2 separate regions of the Homo sapiens genome follow, and region 2 is reported to be linked to region 1. Evidence: microRNA targets listed by miRTarBase, many of them from high-throughput screens and not tested one by one. Region 1 holds a microRNA gene; the other region holds the end of a gene's coding sequence.

The links. Region 1 holds the annotated microRNA hsa-miR-3941 (UUACACACAACUGAGGAUCAUA, at 1,587-1,608, shown strand). A microRNA usually pairs through its seed, bases 2 to 8, with sites in the 3' UTR of a target mRNA and lowers its output. Matches are read on the target gene's strand: a 7mer-m8 pairs with bases 2 to 8, a 7mer-A1 pairs with bases 2 to 7 and ends in A, and an 8mer does both.
Region 2: the mRNA of CCDC169 is a reported target of hsa-miR-3941. Seed matches in the 3' UTR shown: 7mer-m8 at 4,194-4,200.

What each region holds. Positions count from the first base shown.
Region 1 is chr10:122,415,438-122,420,510 of GRCh38, forward strand. MIR3941 (microRNA 3941) reads left to right here and starts at 1,528; the gene lies at 1,528-1,630. PLEKHA1 (pleckstrin homology domain containing A1) reads left to right here. Exons shown (of 12, transcript NM_001001974.4): 7 at 422-565; 8 at 2,463-2,531.
Region 2 is chr13:36,226,654-36,231,726 of GRCh38, forward strand. It overlaps CCDC169 (coiled-coil domain containing 169), which reads right to left. Exons shown (of 8, transcript NM_001144981.3): 8 at 4,122-4,639. The coding sequence ends at 4,540. It overlaps CCDC169-SOHLH2 (CCDC169-SOHLH2 readthrough), which reads right to left. Exons shown (of 16, transcript NM_001198910.2): 6 at 695-728. Among named protein-coding and RNA genes, the nearest start is that of SOHLH2, 15 kb to the left of the region's middle.

The DNA.
Region 1 (5,073 bases):
GTAAAACTGGTGGAATCCGAATAAAGTTTGTGGGTTGTGCCAATGTCCATTTCTTGTTTTTTGATAATGTTACGCCGTTTCCCTTTGAGGGGAAACTAGTGAAAGGGTACATAGGACCTGTTGTACTTTTTTTGGGCAGCTTCTGGTGAATCCTTATAATTATTTCAAAATAAAAAGTTAACTCCTTCCCCAAAAAAGAGCACTGGTGGCAGGACTTGTGCAAAACAAGAGGAATGGAAATTTGTGCTTTAATCAGTGACAGGAAAATTAAGAGTAAGTATCTCAGATTAATTAGAAAACTCTTCAAAAATCTGTTTCTGACTAATCTAAGGTGGATTTTAAGATTTTCTACTGGGATAATATGAAATAAAAGTATGCTAAACAAGCAAGAAAATAATTTATTTATTTTGCTTCATTTTAGAAAGAAGAAGTAAATGAATGTGGTGAAAGTATTGACAGAAATAATCTGAAACGGTCACAAAGCCATCTTCCTTACTTTACTCCTAAACCACCTCAAGATAGTGCGGTTATCAAAGCTGGATATTGTGTAAAACAAGGAGCAGTGGTGAGTAGCTTAACAAAATACATGAAATAATGAAAAAGGATTACGTTCTAGCAAACTCAAATTAACATGGAAATTGTTTGCTTTATTTTATGAAAGACCCAAAGTGAGAGACCGGCATGCTGAGGAGAGTCAGGAGATAAAATAGGGGATATTCTCTGTTTATAATTCAATGCTGTTATTTGCTTGGTTTGCAGGGGGCCAGGAAAGTTAATGCCCATTACCACTGACTTTCAGTTTAAATGAGCTTTCCTAACAGTTTAATGTTTTAGAAAGTGTTTCTATTCATCTTTACTCATACTCAGGAGTGGGTCAGGGAAAGAGAGCTGTTGTGGGGAGATGGCAGGCCAGCGGCAGGAGAAGGAGTGGTGCCTAGGAGGTCTCTTCCTTGTTTAGGCATTGGCCTGACCTCCGTGGTAAGCTCTCTGACCTTGGGCTACTTACTTAACCTCTCAGGCCCTCAGTTTCTGTCTTAAGGAATATCATATAAAACCTACCATCTAGGGTTTTGTTTTGTTTTGTTTTTGTTTTTTAAGAGATGTAAATAAGAAAGGTGTGTTTCCCTTTGCACAGCACCTGGTACTTAGTAAAAGCTGTTATGGGTTAGCCCAGGTATTCCCATATAATCAGTTCCATGATGAATTTTTTGCAAGAGCAAGTAAATTTACCAATATTTCTAAGGTTGCAACATACCTTAGTATCTAAGCCATTCTTTCTATGTGAACTAAATCTTTAGAATTTCATGAGAAAATTAACTTTAAAGTTTGAAAATGTTTTTTAAGTCTGTGAGTAAAGAAATACTTAAAATTATTTTGGTGGTTCTGTTTGACTTCTCATCACTTTTTGGCAACTCTTAATTTTTTTAGGGCAGCCAGGGGAATGTCCTTTCACCTGTTTGACCTGCTTTAGGCTGAGGAAAATGATGGTGAGGGCAGGGGTTTCTTACTGTACAATGTCTGCAGGTAGAGTCAGAATTCTCATCAGGCTGTGATGCTCAGTTGTGTGTAGATTGAAAGCCCTAATTTTACACACAACTGAGGATCATAGCCTGATGGTTCCTTTTTGTTTTACTCTTAAGTCCAAAATACCAGTCAGAGATATTTAAGTGCTTCTGCAAAAACTGTTATTTTATTGACAAAAAATATTTGTACAAAATAGGTTTACTTTATTAAATATTTAGTGCTTTACTACTATGTATAAAGTACTTGTGGAAGAATTCATATGTTTTTACAGATGGAGAAACTTGATGTGGTTTAATAACATTTCCTGTGTTTGCTCTTTACATGGGGTTGGCGGGGGCGAGGAGTAGGAGGAAGGGGAAGTGCTTTTAAAAAAAAAAAAAGTTTCAACATTAAAAATATGAAATAGGCCAGGCATGGTGGCTCACGCCTGTAATCCCAGCATTTTGGGAGGCCAAGGTGGGCGGATCACCTGAGGTCAGGAGTTTGAGACCAGCCTGACTAACATGGTGAAACCCTGTCTCTACTAAAAATACAAAAATTAGCTGGGCATAGTGATGGGAGCCTGTAATCCCAGCTACTCGAGAGGCTGATGCAGGAGAATTGCTTGAACCCAGAAGGCAGAGGCAGTGAGCCGAGATCGCGCCATTGCACTCCAGCCTGGGTGACAGAGCAAGACTCTGTCTCAAAAAAAAAAAAAAAAAACACATAAAATCATACAATAAAAGATGAAAGCCAGGCACCAGAAATTGAATTAGGAATTCAAAGCCTGGGTAGCTAGAGAGGGATGAGGTTTAATTTATCGCATCTCTAAGGGAAGTAATGAGATTTTTCACTGCTTGGCATGTCTGATTGTGGGTTCATATCAGGGTAATTAAGTGGTGACTAACATTTGACATTCTTAGAAACACAAGTCTTATGTCTGTGTTCATCTCTGGTAGATGAAAAACTGGAAGAGAAGATATTTTCAATTGGATGAAAACACAATAGGCTACTTCAAATCTGAACTGGTATGTTGTTACGTCATAAATGTTGCTATAAGAATGTTTGAAAAGTGTTGCAATGTAGTGATTATATATAATTTCTTGTACTGTTCTGTAGTTTCAGAATAAGTCTAGTTTTTAGAGGTAAATATAGTTTATTTGGTTGTGATGCTTTTGGTTAATGATATTTTTCTTAAATACATTTTTAAGTAAAAAGATCCTATCTTCAAAGCAGCATTCCACCTTGAAAGATCTGAAGATCTCAGAATCCTCTAGTCTATAAATTTCCTCTAAAGGGGCTGTCCTCTTGGGGGGTTAGCCCCACGTGGAGTAGGGAGAGAAGGGCATCCACATGGGGAAGGGGTGGTGGCAGAGATGGGAGAATGGTCACATACACAGTGATTTATAAAATCAGGAACTATATTAAGTATAATAGAAGCCAAGTCTTTTCAGAGAAACAATACTTTTTGGTGAATGAATGTATATCTGTATATATGATGAGGAATGAGATATTTACATAGTTTCAAAGTACCTATCTACTAAAATAGGTATTAAGTATTGTACAAGGGGAAAAAGAGTAACATTACAGTGAGGAAAGTGGTGTAAAGAATTCTGTCTGTAAAAGTCAATATTTAACCCTCTGTATTTCTTTCTCTTGAGATTTTCTTTACCTATTTCACATTGACTCATAAATCACTTCACATAAGATGTTTTTATCTTCCCTGAAGGTAGAATCAGAAATTGAAATTCCCTCTTCGCCTTGTTTGAGTTGCATCCTTATTTAAAATATTGTAGGGTGATCTGAGTCCTGAAATAGCTTATTGGAGACATTGAATGCAATTCTGTAGTATAAATGTCTATCCTACGTCTTCTTTTTGTATGGGATCTTTGAGAAGGGAACTTATACTTTGTTTGAATGAAGTCACCAGAACAGCATTGTCCATTAGAACTTTCTGCACAAATGGAAATGTGCCGTATCTGTATTGTCCAAGGGCACTAGCTACATGTAGCTGTTGAGTGCTGGAAATGTGGCTAGTGTGACTGAGGAACTGACTTAATTTCATTTTAATTAATTTATATTTACATCATTACACACAATGGCCACTGTATTGGCCAGCAGAGCACTAGTGTATAGGAAGGGGATATTTTAAGATTCACCTCAGGAGTCAGCTCTTCTGGGAAGCTTTTAGACTCTGGGTTAAGTGTCTTCTCTTTATATGCCCTGTGGTACCCTATGCATACTTGTATCATAATGCTCTTCCCAGAGTTTTGCAATCACGTGCATTCTTGTCTTTGCAACTAAATTAAATGAGCTTCTTAAGGGTAAAGACTCTTGTAGTCTTTTATGATCACAGGGCCTGGCACTTGATAGACAATAAGTGTCTTTGAATGAATGAAAAATGGCATAGCATAGCAAGAAATGCCATTTTAGTATGGGGCTTTCTCAAAGCTTAAGAGCCTCAACTGGAAGTAGTAGTTACTTGGTTCAGAAAGTACCTGCCTTGTTGTCTCAGGAGGCTATCCTTGTGCTTGGTTAGCAGGTTGTCTCATAGATTTTATTTAAAGCCAATACTCCCGGGAAGAGTCATTCATGCAGCAGACATTCATTGAGCTCTCCATGAACCTGGTGCACTGTTCTGGGAACTGAAAATAAAAGAGAATAATTAGCAAAGTTCTCTGGCCTTCAGGAGTTCAGTTTTGGTGGGGAAATTGACGTGTGCCCCCATCATCAACAGTAGTTTTAATAATTAGGAATATTTTTAGTATTTAGAAATTGCAGATAAAGCTGAAAACCTTTAAAGGTCAGTAATTATAACTATACTTAAGTTTTCCTAATTTTACGGAGTATAGTTTATCTCCTATGGTAGTTCTTTGTTCTTCCTCTCAAATTTCACAGAATAATGCCCAGCATACAGGTTTTCAAAACTTAGTATTTCTGTAATAGTTCTTGTTTCAGCTCCCCCTCCCCCAGTTTTAACATTTCTGAAATCTTAGCAGTATGTCTTAGAGTTGCTAAGGACGAGGGGCAGCCAGGCTGCAGCTGTGCTGTAGTTGACTGCTTGCCATATGCACAGTACCTTTGGGTAAAATCCAGAAGACACCGGCATCAGCATGTGCAGAAAAGGGTGCTGGCAGCTTGGGAGGAAATCTCAGGGACACCATGAAACATTCTTAAATACTGCATCACCAACACTCTTTTTGGCACAAAGAATGGCTTGGAGTGAAAAATATGGACATTGGTGGCTCCAAGTCAAAAAGTGATTCAGAAGATCTGGAATCTGAATGTGAAATCTTAAAAACTATAACCAGTTTATCTTGTCTATATTTTTCTTTTTTATATATGCTCAAGAATAATATATGATAAAAATGTTTAAAGTGTAAATGGGCTCTTTTATAAAACCTTTTCATCATGGAAAAGTGTAAACATACCCTTTTAGTAGATAGAAATAATACATGGAACCTGCATATACCCATCACCTAGATGTCATAATTGTTAACACATGGCTCAGCTTGTCTTGTTTCTTCTGTTTCACCACCCACTTCCTGCTTCATATTTTGAGGCAAATCC
Region 2 (5,073 bases), not on the chromosome of region 1:
GCAGCTGGAGGCCATTTTCCTATGCAAATTAACACAGAAGCAGGAAACCAAATACTGCATGTTCTCGCTTACAAGTGATAGCCAAACACTGGGTACTCATGGACATAAAGACAGCAACAATAGACACTGGGGACCACTAGAGGGTGGAGGAAGAAAGGAGAGCAAACATTGACAAATAACTTTCGGCTACTATGCTCAGTCCCTGGGTGATGGGATTATTTGTGCCCCAAATCTCAGCATTATACAATATACCACGATAGCAAACCTGCACAGGTACCTCTGAATCTAAAATAAAAATTGAAATAAATAACAACGAAGAAAAAATAAAATCCTTATCTCTCACTGTAAAAAAGTAAAAATAAAAAGACCAAGGTGAAGTCAGCTCGAGGAGAGTTGGAAGAAGTTTCATTCAGTTTGAGAGATGAAGCCACACTAAACCAGCAGAGTGGGTCCCAATCTTTTCTGTACAATTTCCTGGGGGAGGCTTAAAGAAATACATGTGAGATCACAATCCTGGGGGTGGTGCACATGTCTGAGTATTTTACTTTTAGCTCTTCAGGTGAGTCTGACACACAGCCAAGGTTGAGGACCCATGTAAGCAGGCGGGCCAGAGTGCTTTTTGTCCGAGGCATGTCCTATTCTCTGGTCCAGCCACACCTGCAGCACTGAAACCCAATGTCTCCAAGCAGCTGACCTTTAAAGGGTCCAATTCTTCTTTTAAGAGGAGGCTGTTTGAAGAGATGTGAATAGAACATGAATAAGGACAGCGAAGGTACAAATATGCTAATAAAGCAGATATTCCAACCAGTTTATTGTATTTTTACACACACACACACATATACACAAAAATAAATAAATAAATAAAAGCTCTATACCCAGTGATAGCACTAGTGATGATGCACTTTTGTATTTTTAGGATCATATTATTGAGAAAGATCAAATAATATTTCATTAACATTTATCTACTAATATTAAAATGTTAATGTATATTTAACATTTTTACAACAACTTTACTGAGGTATAAATCACAAAACATACAATTAACCCACTTAGAGTATACAATAGTTTTCATTAGTTTCACAGAGTTGTGCAACTGTCACTGCAATCAATTTTAGAACATTTTCATCCCTCCAAAAAAGAATCCTGTACCTATTAGCAGTCATTCTCCATCACCGACCTTCCCCCAACCCTCAGCAACTATTGATCTATTTTCTGTCTCTATGGATTTGCCTATTTGGGACATTTCATATAAATGGAATTATGCAATATATGGTCTTTTGTTATTCCATTATTTCACTTAGGATAATGTTTCCAAGGTTTACCCATGTTGCAGCATATATCAGCATTTCATTCCTTTCTACTGCCAAATAATATCCATTGTTGGAATATACTACATTTTATTTACCCAATCATCAGCTGATGAACATTTGAGTTGTTTCGACTTCTTGACTATTTGAATAATGGTGCCACAAACCTTCCTGTACATGTTTTTACGTGGACATGGGTTTCCATTTTTCTTGGGCATATACCGAAGAGACTTGCTGTGTCATATAGTAACTCTATGTTTAACCTTTTGAGGAACTGACAGTTTTCCAAAGTGGCTGTATCACTTTATATCCCCACCAGCAACATATGAGGGTTCCAGGTTTTTCACACTCATGTCAATACTCATGATCTGTCTTTTTTATTATGGCAATATTTGTTTTTAAAAATGGTATGTCTTGATATTTTGTAATACATTTAGATATCTTAAATTTTTTAATATATATTGTTTTACTGATGGTTTTGCTTTATGAATTCTGAACTTTCCAATGAAAGAAAACAACTACTGAAGTCAATACATATTTGAGTATCAAAGACCCTAAACTGTCATTTTTGCTGTGGTTATTGCAACAAATAATTGGATTTTTTTTTCTTTTTCTTTGAGACAGGGTCTTACTCTGTTGCCCACGCTGGAGTGCAGTGGCTCATTGCAGCCTCAACCTCCTGGCCTGGCTCAAGTGATCCTCCCACCTCAGCCTTCTGAGTACTAGGCTACAGGCACGTGTCACCACAACTGGTTAATTTTTGTATTTTTTGTAGAGATGGAGTTTTGCCATGTTGCTCAGGCTGGTCTGGAACTCCTGGGCTCAAGCAATTCACCCGCCTCACCCTCCCAAAGTGACAGGGGGTGTGAGCCACCATGTCCAGCCAGTAATTGCATTTTCTTTATGACAAAATTATTTTCAGAGCTTAGAACTGGATAAAACTTTTTCTCTACTTGTATATTCCTTCTACAAAGGAAAGCAGTCATTGCTTCTTTGCACTGACTGGTAGAAAGCTTAAAACTAAAACTTTTCTTGGTTGGAAATTCTTGCTAAATTTTAATTTTTATTTTCATCTTTTATCTTGTAGGTATTTTTTGATACCTCTATATTAGTAAAAGCTAATTCACATCCCTTCTAGTGGGAAAGAGACTATAAAGAAGTAAAGAAATAAATATGTGGTAAGTACCCTTGATCTGCACAGCAATCTCAAGGCAGTAATTATAAAGGATAAAACTGAGGATATGAGAAGTTATTTACCAAAGTCAGAAGCTTATAAGTGGCAAAACTGGTATTAGAATACAGATCTTGGAGTCCCTCATTTCAGTTCTTTATACTCTCTCAACATTCCATCATTCTGTTTAATACAGACATTTTATGGTATCTGAAAAGTATCCCAAAGTAGCTCCTGCAGAACCAACACTTAAATGTAATAGAGTCCCTGTGATAAGATGTTCAACTGATATTTTATCCCAGTGATTGAGATAACTTTAAATGTTCCTCAATAGTCCCCACAATAGCTTAGCTCTGTAAGGAAAAAATGTGTTTATTTTTCATTGATAATTATAATTATTATAATAATGTTTTTTTTTTTTTTTGAGACAGAGTCTTGCTCTGTCTCCCAAGCTGGAGTGCAGTGGCATGATCTCAGTTCACTGCAACCTCTGCCTCCCGGGTTCAAGTGATTCTCATGCCCCAGCCTCCTGAGTAGCTGGGACTATAGGCATGCACAACCACTCCAGGCTAACTGTATTTTTTGTATTTTTAGTAGAGACAAGTTTTGCCATGTTGGCCAGGCTGGTCTCAAACTCCTGGACTCAAGTGATCTGCCTGCCTTGGCCTCCCAAAGTACTAGGATTACAGGTGTGAGCCACCACACCTGGCCTATAATTATTATTTAAATTATTAATTTTCTACTAATGCTGAGAAAGATGGTATAAGACATAAAAATCTAATGTTTGTCTAATGATATGGGTCAAGGCACCTAATATTAATAGTTAGCTAAAGAATAGGGGAAAATATTTACAAATAATTCCAATGTAGAATGATTTATAGAAAGTTACTTTATATTTTTCCACATTACATTTTAAAGTTACTTAAAATATTTTTGGCTACATGAAATTTATATATTCTTCCTTAAGGAAAGAAAATAAACTTTTATAGAAGAAGTTACAGAAATGCACTTGGTATTCATTACTGGTGATACATAATAGAATTTAGGTTTAGTGCCAGATATAGGGTGAGAACACCATTAGCTGGAAACTATACTTACCTCTAGGTGATTTCTATAAATCTGAAGTCCAATGATTTCACTTATTAAAGTGGACAAATAAGTTATATGTTCCGGACCTAGGTGACAGTTACAAAAACTATCTAAAAGACAAAAACAGTCTAACCATGAATGAGAGGATTCAATACATTTTATAAATGCCTCAAAAGAACTCTTTTCTTATCCTCATTCTATCTCCACATCTGGACTTGAGTATTGTGAACAATTGCAGTTTGGTCTAAAGAATTAGTCCATCACTATGAATTACCACACATCACAAAATGACTTAAATCACCAGTGTTAAGTAAGTGGTAGGACCTTATGATTGAATAAATATTGGTTTTCTAGAATTGTAAAAACCTCAGAAAGTGTATAGTTTTGCTTCAATCATTTTACAGGTGTGGGAAATAAACATGAGGTGAAGGGACTTGCCCAAGATCTCCTAAGTTCATGGCAGAGTGGAGACTACAAACAAGTTTATTTAAGATTGAAGGTTGTTCTACGATACCATAATATTTCAAGTCAAAACTTAAAATGGACTTGATTTTCGGCTTTGTTTAAACCTGCAATTTAAAAAACTGAGCAAGATCCAGCCCAAAATGGCAAAAAGGTTTTATGAATACACACTTTTTGCTAACAGTCAACTAGAAACCAAATAGAATAGCAACGTTACTATCAGAGCAGATCATGGGTATATTATTGAAAGCAAGTGTAATGATGCCAGCCTTCAGATTCCCTAGGATATTTTAAAACTCTCAAGCACTTCTATTACATAGTTTAGGGTCACTGGAGAAAATTACTTTTATGCAGACAAAGGAACACACGTCTGGAAAAGGAACTAAAGAAAAATGTGGCAGTTCTTATCTATTTTATTCCCTGAAGAAATGTGCTGACCATTAACTTTATAACTTGAATATTATAAATGGAAAAAAAAAGGAAGAAATAGAAATCCATCCAGTTCTGGAATCATGGATGGAGTTCTGGAAGATGGTTTGGTCTTGTAATCTTTTTTACTGGTCCTCTCTTGGCACTCACTGTCTTCTGCTTAGCTGGATTATATCTTCCACTGAAATAAATAAGTGTTAATCATAATTTTTCAGTCACCATTATGTACAACAAAAACATTATAGGCCACACAGGAAGAAATGTATATTGCACCTTGTTCCCCCCAACAGACCTTCACACGGAAACCTTCCTGTGAATAGTTTCTGCTTACAGTGCAAATCTTAGGCAGCCTTCTGTTATAGCACATCATCTCCACCGCTACAGAGGCATACAGCTTAAGGGCAGGTAATTCAAAGGCTGGAAGCAGCATGTCAGGTGCCCTAATGTGGAAAGTTCTGTCTAATGAGGATAAGACAGATCCGTGAATTCCTTTTCTTAGATTTCCATGAGATCCTTTTTCCATTAATGACTTATGTGGCACTAAAAAGCCAACCTTCCTTACACTCTGACTTGAGAGAGTTAAAGGCCACTTCAATTTCCTAAAAACTTTCTTAG